3 linked regions of the Homo sapiens genome follow. The gene in region 1 interacts genetically with each later gene. Each region holds a gene or a part of one and is shown in the gene's direction. Other genes may lie near its edges.

Region 1 (3,655 bases):
TAAAGAAAAAAATGCCATCCAGGAGAAGACGTAGACTTCCCCCTTATAACATACTGTGTGCCAGGATTATACCAAGTTCCAGAGGAATTAAAGATCTAGGTAATAGGCCAGGCATGGTGGCTCCTACCTGTAATCCCAGCACTTTGGGAGGCTGAGGCAGGCAGATCGCTTGAGCTCAGGAGTTTGAGACCAGCCTGGGCAACATGGTGAAACCCTGTCTCTACCAAAAATGCAAAAAATTAGCCAGGCATGGTGGTGTGCTCCTGTGGTCCCAGTTACTTGGGAGGCTGAGGTGGGAGGATGGCTTGAGCTGGGGAGGCAGACGTTGCAGTGAGCCAAGATCATGCCAGTGTACTCCAGCCTGGGCCACAGAGTGAGACCCTGTCTCAAAAAGAAAAAAAAACAGATCTAGGTAATAAAAATAACTCAATAGAAATACTGAAAGAACATGATGGACAATATTTTCATAATCTAGGAATGGGAAGATCTTAGGAAGACAGGAAACTCAGAAACCATAAAGGAAGACTGACATTTATCTACATATAACAAAAAAATAGATCAGAACTAAAATATGGACCATACTATAAACAATGGCAAATGATTAACTTGGAAAAATTAAATCTCTAATATTTAATGATTCACAAATGGTCACTATTCCTAATGTACAAAGAATTTTTGTATATTGATGAGAGAACAAAATGAATAGCAAGATGGGTCAAGGGCATGAAAAGACCATTCACAGGAGAAGAAAAGCAAATGGCAATTAGAACTATGAAAATATGCTCGGCTTCATTTTTGGTTAATGACAGCAATATAGGATAACCATGATTCCACCTGACTGGCAAAATCTAAAATGAGCCAGGATGCAAAAACAGGACATCTTGCCCGTGGGAGCGTCAGTCTACACAGCTGTGTGGAAAGGAAACCTGGCATTGTCTATAAAAACTAAAAGCTACTTTAATTCAGCAGTTGTGCTTTTATAAAACAAGTTTATAGAAATAAAAGTGCAATTCTATTAGGGTGTATGATTGAAAAATGAGAATGGCTGCATTGTTGTAGTGGCAAATAAACTGGAAGCAACAGCAATTGAATTTTCTCCTTACTGCTCAGTTTCCTTTCTAACGGCAGTGATGTAGGTGCCCGTCAGGGTCAGGGCAGGGGAGCTGCATGCCAGTGAGGAAGAAAGCTCCTGAGCACAGATGGTTCCTGGGGGAGCCACACAGGGGTCACTTCTACAGTGCCACCTGGCTGGTGCTGGCCCCTTGTACACATGGGTACATGTACAGCAAGGTCTGCCCATAGAGCTTGGGACTTGTCTGTGAACAGAGGACGCCGGCCTGGGCACCTCTGTGTTCCAGGCTTTGGGGCTTTGCAAAAGAGAGACTGCAAGGGCAGGCAGACTGATGGGAGGAGACACACAGCTGCTGCCTGTGAGGGAGGGGAACCCCAAAAGCCTGCACCGTTACTGAGGAAGAGCTCCGTGTGGCCCAGGAAGCCTCAGTATTATGCTGCAGAGGCACTAATGGACATTCTGAATCTCCAAGGAAGACATAACTTGTTTTTGTTATACTTTAGTTTTAAAAGTTTAGGAAATACATAGTTCAATTTAGAGAGATTTCTGTGTTTCATACAAGTTTTATTGTATAAATAGGTAAGACTCCCTGTGTCTGGAGAACTTGGCTTTCTAGAATAACTTACTCTTTGATGTTGCTGTTGGTTAATATTTTGCCATAAATATCACTCTTGAACATTTCCATGCCCCTTTGCTTTCAGTTTTTTGTAGCATCAGATCCAACAGTTAAAACAGATCGACTGTGGCACGACAAGTATACTTTGAGGAAATCGATGATTCCTTCGTTTATGACGATGGATCAGTCTAGGAAGGTAGGATTAGAAGAGATTTTTGTGATTTTGATGTTTTATGGCTATGTATACTTAGATTATGTGACAAAACCAATTTTCAGTTAAAATTTCATGCGTTTTGAGATTGTTAACGTTCTGGAGATGAAGTAAGTGCATGTTAATTGAATACATCAGTATAGTATGTGTTCAATATATCTTTGAGTTACTAGAATTCGCTCCATACTGTAGCAGATGCTCTTGTTAGTTTTCAATCAATAGCCAATTTGTAGCTTACGAATATTTGTAGATTTGGGCAGTCGTTTTAAATTTACATAAAAGTAATCATAGAATGTTTTTCTTTTTAGGTCCTTTTGATAGGAAAATCAATAAATTTCTTGCACCAAGTTTGTCATGATCAGACTCCCACTACAAAGATGATAGCTGTGACCAAGTCTGCAGAGTCACCCCAGGACGGTATGATGATGCTGGTGGGGTGGTGATGATGGCAATGGTGTGATGTTGATGATGATGTGAGGATGGTGATACTCATGGTAACAGTGATGTTGATGACGTAGTGATTGTGATGGTGTGATGATGGGGATGATGGTGATGTGATGATAATGATGTTGGGGATGGGTGGTGATGATGGCGATGATGAATGCGTGGTGGTGGCAGTGATGGTGGTGATGATGTTGATGGTGATGATGATGGGGGTAATGATGGTGGTGTGATGATGGTGATGTGATGATGTTGGGGATGGATGATGGGGATGTGATGATGGTGTGCTGGTGGTAGTGATGATGGTGATGATGATGATGGTGATGATGTGGTGATGGTGTGATTATGGTGATGTGATGATGTTGGGGATGGGTGGTGATGATGGCATGGTGGTGGCAGTGATGGTGGTGATGTTGATGGTGATGATGGTGATGGTGTGATGATAGTGATAATGATGGGGATGGGTGGCGACGGTGATGATGGCGTGGTAGCGGCAGTGATGGTGGTGATGATGTTGATGGTGATGATGGTGGTAATGATGGTGATGGTGTGATGATAGTGATGATGGGGATGGGTGGTGATGACAGCGATGATGATGGCATGGTGGTGGCAGTGATGGTGTTGATGATGTTGATGGTGATGATGGTGGTGATGATGGTGATGGTGTAATGATAGTGATAATGATGGGGATGGGTGGTGATGATGGTGGTGATGATGGCGTGGTGGTGGCAGTGATGGTGGTGATGATAGTGATGGTGATGATGGTGGTAATGATGATGGTGATGTGATGATAGTAATGACAATGATAATTGTGATGGATGGTGATAGTAATGATATGATGATGGTGATAGCGGTGATGATAGTGGAGGTGATGATGATGTGCTGATATTACAGATTACTTAAAAGTATTTTTTGTACCATAGGATTTATAGATTATTAGAATTACTCTCTGATACACCTTAATACATAGTATTATGTATGTATATATATAGTACTGTGTAAATTTTTAATTTCCTTTTTATACAGTTATACAGTAAGTGTTGGAATAGGTATAGCTGTTTTAAAATGATAAAGTGGCAGTGTGCCAAAATAAGAAATAACAGAAAAAATATTGCTAATGGTAGCCTATTCTTTGGGATGCAAAGGCTTTGTTTGGAGAAGAGCCAGGACTTATTGCACTTATTGTGTTTATTGCATTCAGAATGTCGCATGAGCGTTCAGCCTGTGGGAAGTGCTGAGGCTTTCCCTCGTTCTCTTCCTTTTCCCCATTTGCCGCCTGCCCCACCCTCAGTAATTTCATGATGTTTTGTGTATG
Region 2 (3,655 bases), on another chromosome or scaffold:
GGGTTTCACCATGTTGGCCAGGCTGGTCTCGAACTCCAGACCTCAGGTGATCTGCCCACCTCAGCCTCCCAAAGTGCTGGGATTACAGGTGTGAGCCACTGTGCCCAGCCAGTAACTTTAATATAGTATCTGTTTTCAAAACCCTCTTAGCATTTTTTCAAATTTAGGTATTATGTTTATGTTAACGTAATACCTCAAGTGATCCGTAGTACCTTTGCAGTACTGATGCAGGAGGATGGCTTGAGTCCAGGAGTTAGAGACCAGCCTGGGCAACATGATGAGGCCCCATCTCTACAAAAAAATTTTAAAAATTAGCTGAGTGTGTTAGCAGTTTACCTGTAGTCCTAGCTACTTGGGAAGCTGAGGTGGGAGGATTGATGGAGCCCAGAAGGTAGAGGCTGCAGTGGCTGTGATCATACCACTGCACTCCAGCCTGGATGACAGAGCGAGACACTGTTTCAGGGGGCGAGGGGAAGAAACTTGAGAGTCTTCGTGAGCATACTCTGGCTGGGGAGGCTGCCTGATTTGCAAATCGTTCTTTGTTCAATTAAACTCAAAAAGAAAAAAACCTTAAAATCTTTACAATATCGATAATGGTTGCATGGGAAATTATCTCTAAACTTAGGTTCTTGCTAAGAACCCCTCAGATCATATTGTTTGGTGTGGGGTTTTTCTGCAATTCTCAGAACTGCTTTTTTTTTTTTTTTAAGCTGCACGTCTCTGCATTTAAAATGTCTCATGTTCCTTTTTTTGGTATTAATTTCTTTATGACTATGAGGAGAAAAATTAGAAATTATTCATTCTGTGTTTAATACTTAGAACAATACTAAGATGTATATAGAAAAGGTTGTATCTCTCCCACAACCTGCTAACTCTCAAATCCTACTCTTCTGAGGTTATCAAGGTTAAAAGCTTTTGACACTTTGCTTCATGCTCATACTAATTTTTTTAGTGGACCTTATATTTTACAACAGTTCTAGGTTTACAGCAAAATTGAGCAGAAGGTACAGAGATTTTCCATATATCCCCTGCCTCCACACAAGCATAGTGCCTTCACCTTTTAAAACATCCCCCACCAGAGTGGTACATTTCTAACAATTTTATTTCCTTCCCTTTCCCCCGCTAAATATAGGATGCATTTTTGTGGAGAAAAGTTTTGTAATCAATAATCTTTTCATTCTCCTCTTTAATATGAAGGATGTTTCTAATTTTTTTAGCTGTAATCATTCTTTGACAAATATTCTTATATATAAATCTTAGTAAACATGTTTATTGATTTCTTCAAGGAAAATTCTTAGAAGGAGCCATACTGGCTCAAGGATTATGCACATTTAAAAAACACTGATAATTGTCAGTTTACATCTACCTGAATGGCTAGTTCTCTGTGTTCAAGTCAATACTAGGTAGTCTTGGTTTTCTTTCTAATCTTAGCCAGTTTGTTAGGTGAAAAATGCTGTCTCGTTGCTTTAAATTGTATTTCTTTGATTAACAATGAAATGAGGTTGGATTTTTTTTTTAGTTTACAGTACATTATTTATTTATTTATTTTTTGTGATGGAGTCTCACTCTTGTCTCCCAGGCTGGAGTGCAGAGTGCAGTGGCGTGATCTTGGCTCACCACAACCTCCACCTTCCAGGTTCCTCAGCTTCCCAAGTAGCTAGGATTATAGGTGCACACCACCATGCCCGGCTAATTTTTGTATTTTTAGTGGAGACGGGGTTTCACCATGTTGGTCAGGCTGGTTTCGAACTCCTGACCTCGGGTGATCCACCTGCTTCGGCCACCCAAAGTGCTGGGATTACAGGCATGAGCTATTGCGCTTGGCCTATTTTTTATAATTTTTAAAAAAATCATTAGCTGGGCATGGTGGCATGTGCTTGTCGTCCTAGTTACTTGGAAGGCTGAGGAGGAAGATCAATTGAGCCCGGGAGTTTCAGGCTGCAGTGAGCTGTGGTTGCACCACTGCATTCCAGTCTGGGCAACAAAGCAAGACCCGATCCCTGAAAAATAGTGTCTTTTTTTTTTTTAAGACAGAGAGACAGTATTGCTCTCCTCTCAGGCTGGAGTACAGTGGCGGTGATCTCAGCTCACTGCAACCTCCACCTCCCGGGTTCAAGCTAGTCTTGTGCCTCAGCCATCCGAGTAGTTGGGATTACAGGCGTGCACCACCATGTGTGGCTAATTTTTGTATTTTTAGTAGAGTCAGGGTTTCACCACTTTGGCCAGTCTGTTGTCGAACTTCTGGCCTCAAGAAATTGACCCGCCTCAGCCTCCCAAAGTGCTGGGATTATGGGCTTGGGCCACCGTGCGAGGCCAATAAAATATCCTTTAACTGTTTTCTATTAGGGTGTTCTCTTTTTACCCTTCTTCTTTGTTTGTAAGAATTCTTGACAAAATTTGTTTGTCTTTTACTTTTTATGTTACTTCTGGCATTCCAAATAGTCATACTTGGGTTTTTCCTTGGCTTGTATATTGAGAGTTCCTCTATGCTTAAATTTGAGAAACATTTACTTTAACTTTTTTTTTTTTTTTTTTTTTTGAGGCAGCGTCTTACTTTGTTGCCCAGGCTGGAGTACAGTGGCACAATTATGCCTCACTGCAGCTTCAACCTGCCAGGCTTAAGCAATCCTCCCACTTCAGCTTCCTGAGCTGGGACTAGAGGCACGTACCTCTATTTCTTATTTATTTTATTTATTTATTTATTTTTTGGAGAGCTGGGGTCTTGCCATGTTGCCCAGGCTGGTCTTGAACTCCTAGACTCAAGCAATGCACCCACCTCAGCCTCCTAAAGTGCTGGGATTAGGCATGAACCACCACTCCTGGCCCCCCACCCCCTTTTTTGAGATGGAGTCTCACTCTTTTGTCAGGCTGGAATGCAGTGGCACAATCTTGGCTCACTGCAGCCTCTGCCTCCCGGTTTCAAATGATTCTTCTGCCCCAGCCCCCTGAGTAGCTGGGACTACAGGTGTGTGCCACTATGTGCAGCTAATTTTTGTATTTTTAGTAGAGACGGGGTTTGACCATGTCGGCCAGGGTGGTCTCAATCTCTTGACCTCCCAAAGTGCAGGGATTACAGGCGTGCGGCACCGTGCCTGGCCCCGTCCCTTATTTTTTAATTTTAAAAAATTAGAAGGGCAGGTGTGGTGGCTCATGCCTGCAATCCCAGCACTTTGGGAGGCCGAGGTGGGCAGATCGCTTGAGATCAGGAGTTCAAGGCCAACATGGTAAAACCCTGTCTCTACTAAAAATAACAAAAATTCGCTGGGCGTGGTGGTACATGCCTGTAATCCCAGCTACTCAGGAGGCTGAGGCAGGAGAATCACTTGAACCTGGGAAGCGGAGGTTGCGGCAAGCTGAGTTCATGCCACTGCACTCCAGCCTGAGCGACAGAGTAAGACTCTGTCTCAAAAAAAAATAAGAATTGAGTGATTAACCAATTTCTTCCAGTTCTTTTTATTTAACCATCTGTTCTTTCCACACTGATTTGCAAGAGCCTTTTCATATAATCTTTAAATATATTCTTCTTTAAGGTTTTCTAGTCTATTGACACATCTGTTACACTATTTTAGTAATTGACATTTTAGTTTTATCTTTTTGCTAATTTGTAAACATTATTGTATATTTGGGGAAAGTGTTTTGCCTTTTGTAACTTATG
Region 3 (3,394 bases), about 91 Mb from region 1:
CTGCATATTTCATTTCAGTGAACTCATTACAGTATTCGTCATTTTGGCTTATTTCATGGTGTTTTTAGGGTTAATGTTGTAGCATCCATTTAGCCTTGTCAAGGCTGAATCATATTTCATTGTATGTGTGCATCACATATGTACTCATCTATTGATGGACACTTGGGTTGTTTCACCTTTTTTGCCATTGTGAATAATGCTGCTGTGAACATTGGCATACAAATGTGTTTGTGTCGCTGCTTTCAGTTCTTTTGGGTATGTACCTAGGAGGGGATTACTGGGTCATATGTTAACTTTGTTTAATTTTTGAGGAACCACCAAACTTTTTCACAGCAGCTGCACTATTTTATATTCCCCAAAAGATGTATAATTTTAAACTATTTAAGCCCTGTACACTAGAGCTAATCCCTTGAAGATTGGGACCTTACTTGTCTTATTTGGAGGTGCTTGTTAAATTTATGTAGTAGTATGATACCTGTACTTAAGCATCACTCAAGGGTAAGTGTTCTAGGAAGGTTGATTTAGCTTATATGGAAGAACTGTTGAATAATGGCTTGATGAAAATCTCTTCAGAAATTAAAGTGTATGTTTCTTCCAACAAGAGTTCCTATTTGCCAGGTGCTGTGTGTGCTTAGATCCTGAGGGTATAAAGTCAAGACGGTACTGCTCCTCCCTGTAGTAAGTCCTTTTATCAGGGAAAGCGGATGAATAGAGTGATTTTTAGGGTTAAAATGGCAGGGTGAGGTTGTTCCACAGACCTTCCACTCTGAATCAAGAAAAAAAATTACCAAAAAAATCCTGTCCTAAACTATACCGTCCATAAATTGCAACCAAACAAAGAAGGAACAACTTTAAGTTACATCTCAAAATGGTGGCCAAAGAAAAGATTCTGAAAGACTGGATGATTGGTATGGGGGTAACACAAAGGCCTGCCCTCATTCCCAGAAATAGTAATGAGGGAAAATTAGTTAACATATACTGGAAATTCTCAATTTGGAGAAGTAGACTGTGGGGTTAAATAGGCAGTCCCAAGAGAAGTTATGGAAACAGGAGTGGAAGTCCAGAGGAGCCCAGTAGAGGCAGGCTGTGTTCACCAAAGTCAATCAGGGCTCAGCCAGAAAAACAGAATTGGGAGAGATGTGTTAAGAGATTTATTTCTGCTGGGCGTGGTGGCTCACGCCTGTAATCCCAGCACTTTGGGAGGCCGAGGTGGGCGGGTCATGAGGTCAGGAGTTGGAGACCAGCCTGGCCAACATGGTGAAACCCCGTCTCTGCTAAAAATACAAAAATTAGCCAGGCATGGTGGCGGGTGCCTGTAATCCCAACTACTTGGGAGGCTGAGGCAGGAGAATTGCTTGAACCCAGGTGGCAGAGGTTGCAGTGAGCCGAGATCAGCGCCACTGCACTCCAGCCCGGGCGACAGAGCGGGACTCCATCTCAAAAAAAAAAAAAAAAAAAAAAAAAAGCTTTATTGCAAAGAATTTGGTTTACGTGATTGTGGGGGCTGTCTAGGCCCTTAATTGTCAAATCTGTAGGGCAGGTTCTCAGGAAGGAAAGGCTGCTCTTAGGGCCTTTCAACTAATAGAATCAGGCCTCCCCAGATTATATAGGATAGACCTCTGAATTTAAGGTCAATTGGTTGTTGACTTTAGTCACATCTATAAAATATCTCACAGCAATACCTAGGTTAGTGTTTGGTTGAATATCTGGGGACTGTAGCTTCGTCAAGCTGACACAAGTACTGAACCCCACCCTGTCCTCAAGCTTCTGACTAGTGATGAAAAAGCAACACTTGGCACTCCAATTGTTGGTCTGGAAAGACAGTCCTTAGAAGGTGGGAAGCTTGTGTAGGTTTCACACTGTCAGAACTGATAAAAGGTGTGATATAAATCCCCCAAATTAATTAAGAGCAAGACAATATTGAAAATATTTTTAGAAAGGAAAAAATTCTTTCTGGTATATATCATCATAAGTATGTACTGTGTATCAGAATATAGACTGAGCATCGCAAGTCCAAAATCTGAAATGCCACAAAATCTGAAACTTTTGAGAGCTGACGTGACACCGGTGGAAAATTGCACACATAAGTTCTTGACCTCTTTTTTTTTTTTTTTTTTTGAGACAGAGTCTTGCTCTGTCATCCAGGCTGGAGTGCAGTGGCGCGATCTCGGCTCACTGCAACCTCTGCCTCCCAGGTATAAGCGATTCTCCTGCCTCAGCCTCCTGAGTAGCTGGGATTACAGGCGTGCACCAAACTTCCTTTCATGCACACAATTACTTAAAATGATGTATAAAATTGTATTCCAGCTGTGTATAAGGTATGTTTGAAACATAAATGAGTTTCTTATTTAAACTTGGGTCACAACCCCAAGATATCTTACGTATATGCAAAAATTCTAAAATTTGAAAAAACCTAAAACGCTTCTAGTCCCATGTATTTTGGGTAAGGGATACTGAACCTATAATTGATACAGAATAGTTAACATCAAAATATCAGGTTGAAAAAAGGTCACCTCTGAGACAGATAAACCAATGTGACCTCAGGTTTTTTTGTTTTTGAGACAGAGTCTCAGTCTGTCACCCAGGCTGGAGCACAGTGGCACAGTCTTGGCTCACTGCAGCCTCCGCCTCCCAGGTCAAGCGATTCTCTTGTCTCAGCCTCTCGAGTAGCTGGGATTATAGGCTACAGATGTGTGCCACAACGCCTGGCTAATTTTTGGATTTTTAGTAGAAACGGGGTTTCACCATGTTGGCCAGGCTGCTCTCGAACTTGAGCTCCTGGCCTCAGGTGATCCACCCGCCTTGGCCTCCCAAAGTGCTGGGATTACAGGCATGAGCCTCCGCACCTGGCAAAAAAATGTATACTAGGTTATTTCTAAGATGCTTATATGTTAAAATATTTTTTTCAGATTGTTCTCTTATTAGCTCAGGGGACTATATGAAAGTTGGATTCAAGTCAATATTTGCAGGGTAAGAAACTATTGTGACAAGAGCCTGTGCTTCATTGTAAGAAACTTTTGTATATTTCATTGGCTCTAGTACTCTTATCTGTTGTAAAACTTACAATTCTATCTAAGAAAGAAGAAACACATCTGGCTGGGCGCAGTGGCTCACGCTTGTAATCAATCCCAGCACTTTGGGAGGCCAAGATAGGTGGATCACTTGAAGTCAGGAGTTCGAGACCAGCATGGCCAACATGGTGAAACCCTGTCTCTACTAAAAATAGAAAAATTACCTGGGCGTGGTGGTGGGCGTCTGTAATCCCAGCTACTCAGGAGGCTGAGGCAGGAGAATTGCTTGAACCTGGGAGGCGGAGGTTGCAGTGAGCTGAGGTCACGCCACTGCACTCTAGCCTGGGCGACAGAGCGAGACTCTCTCAAAAACAAAACGTCAG

What was found.
Region 2: changes in TUBGCP3 (region 1) and SSB together harm fitness more than expected from each alone (negative genetic interaction), as found in Homo sapiens cells (one large-scale study listed by BioGRID).
Region 3: changes in TUBGCP3 (region 1) and SAP18 together harm fitness more than expected from each alone (negative genetic interaction), as found in Homo sapiens cells (one large-scale study listed by BioGRID).

The regions. Positions count from the first base shown.
Region 1 is NC_000013.11:112,525,603-112,529,257, reverse strand, and holds part of TUBGCP3 (gamma-tubulin complex component 3), read left to right. Parts: intron 1-1,773; coding exon 1,774-1,884; intron 1,885-2,207; coding exon 2,208-2,316; intron 2,317-3,655. UniProt on the Homo sapiens protein: Component of the gamma-tubulin ring complex (gTuRC) which mediates microtubule nucleation.
Region 2 is NC_000002.12:169,801,724-169,805,378, forward strand, and holds part of SSB (lupus La protein), read left to right. Parts: intron 1-3,655. UniProt on the Homo sapiens protein: Binds to the 3' poly(U) terminus of nascent RNA polymerase III transcripts, protecting them from exonuclease digestion and facilitating their folding and maturation.
Region 3 is NC_000013.11:21,142,967-21,146,360, forward strand, and holds part of SAP18 (histone deacetylase complex subunit SAP18), read left to right. Parts: intron 1-2,125; coding exon of another isoform or gene 2,126-2,318; intron 2,319-3,394. UniProt on the Homo sapiens protein: Component of the SIN3-repressing complex. Enhances the ability of SIN3-HDAC1-mediated transcriptional repression. When tethered to the promoter, it can direct the formation of a repressive complex to core histone proteins.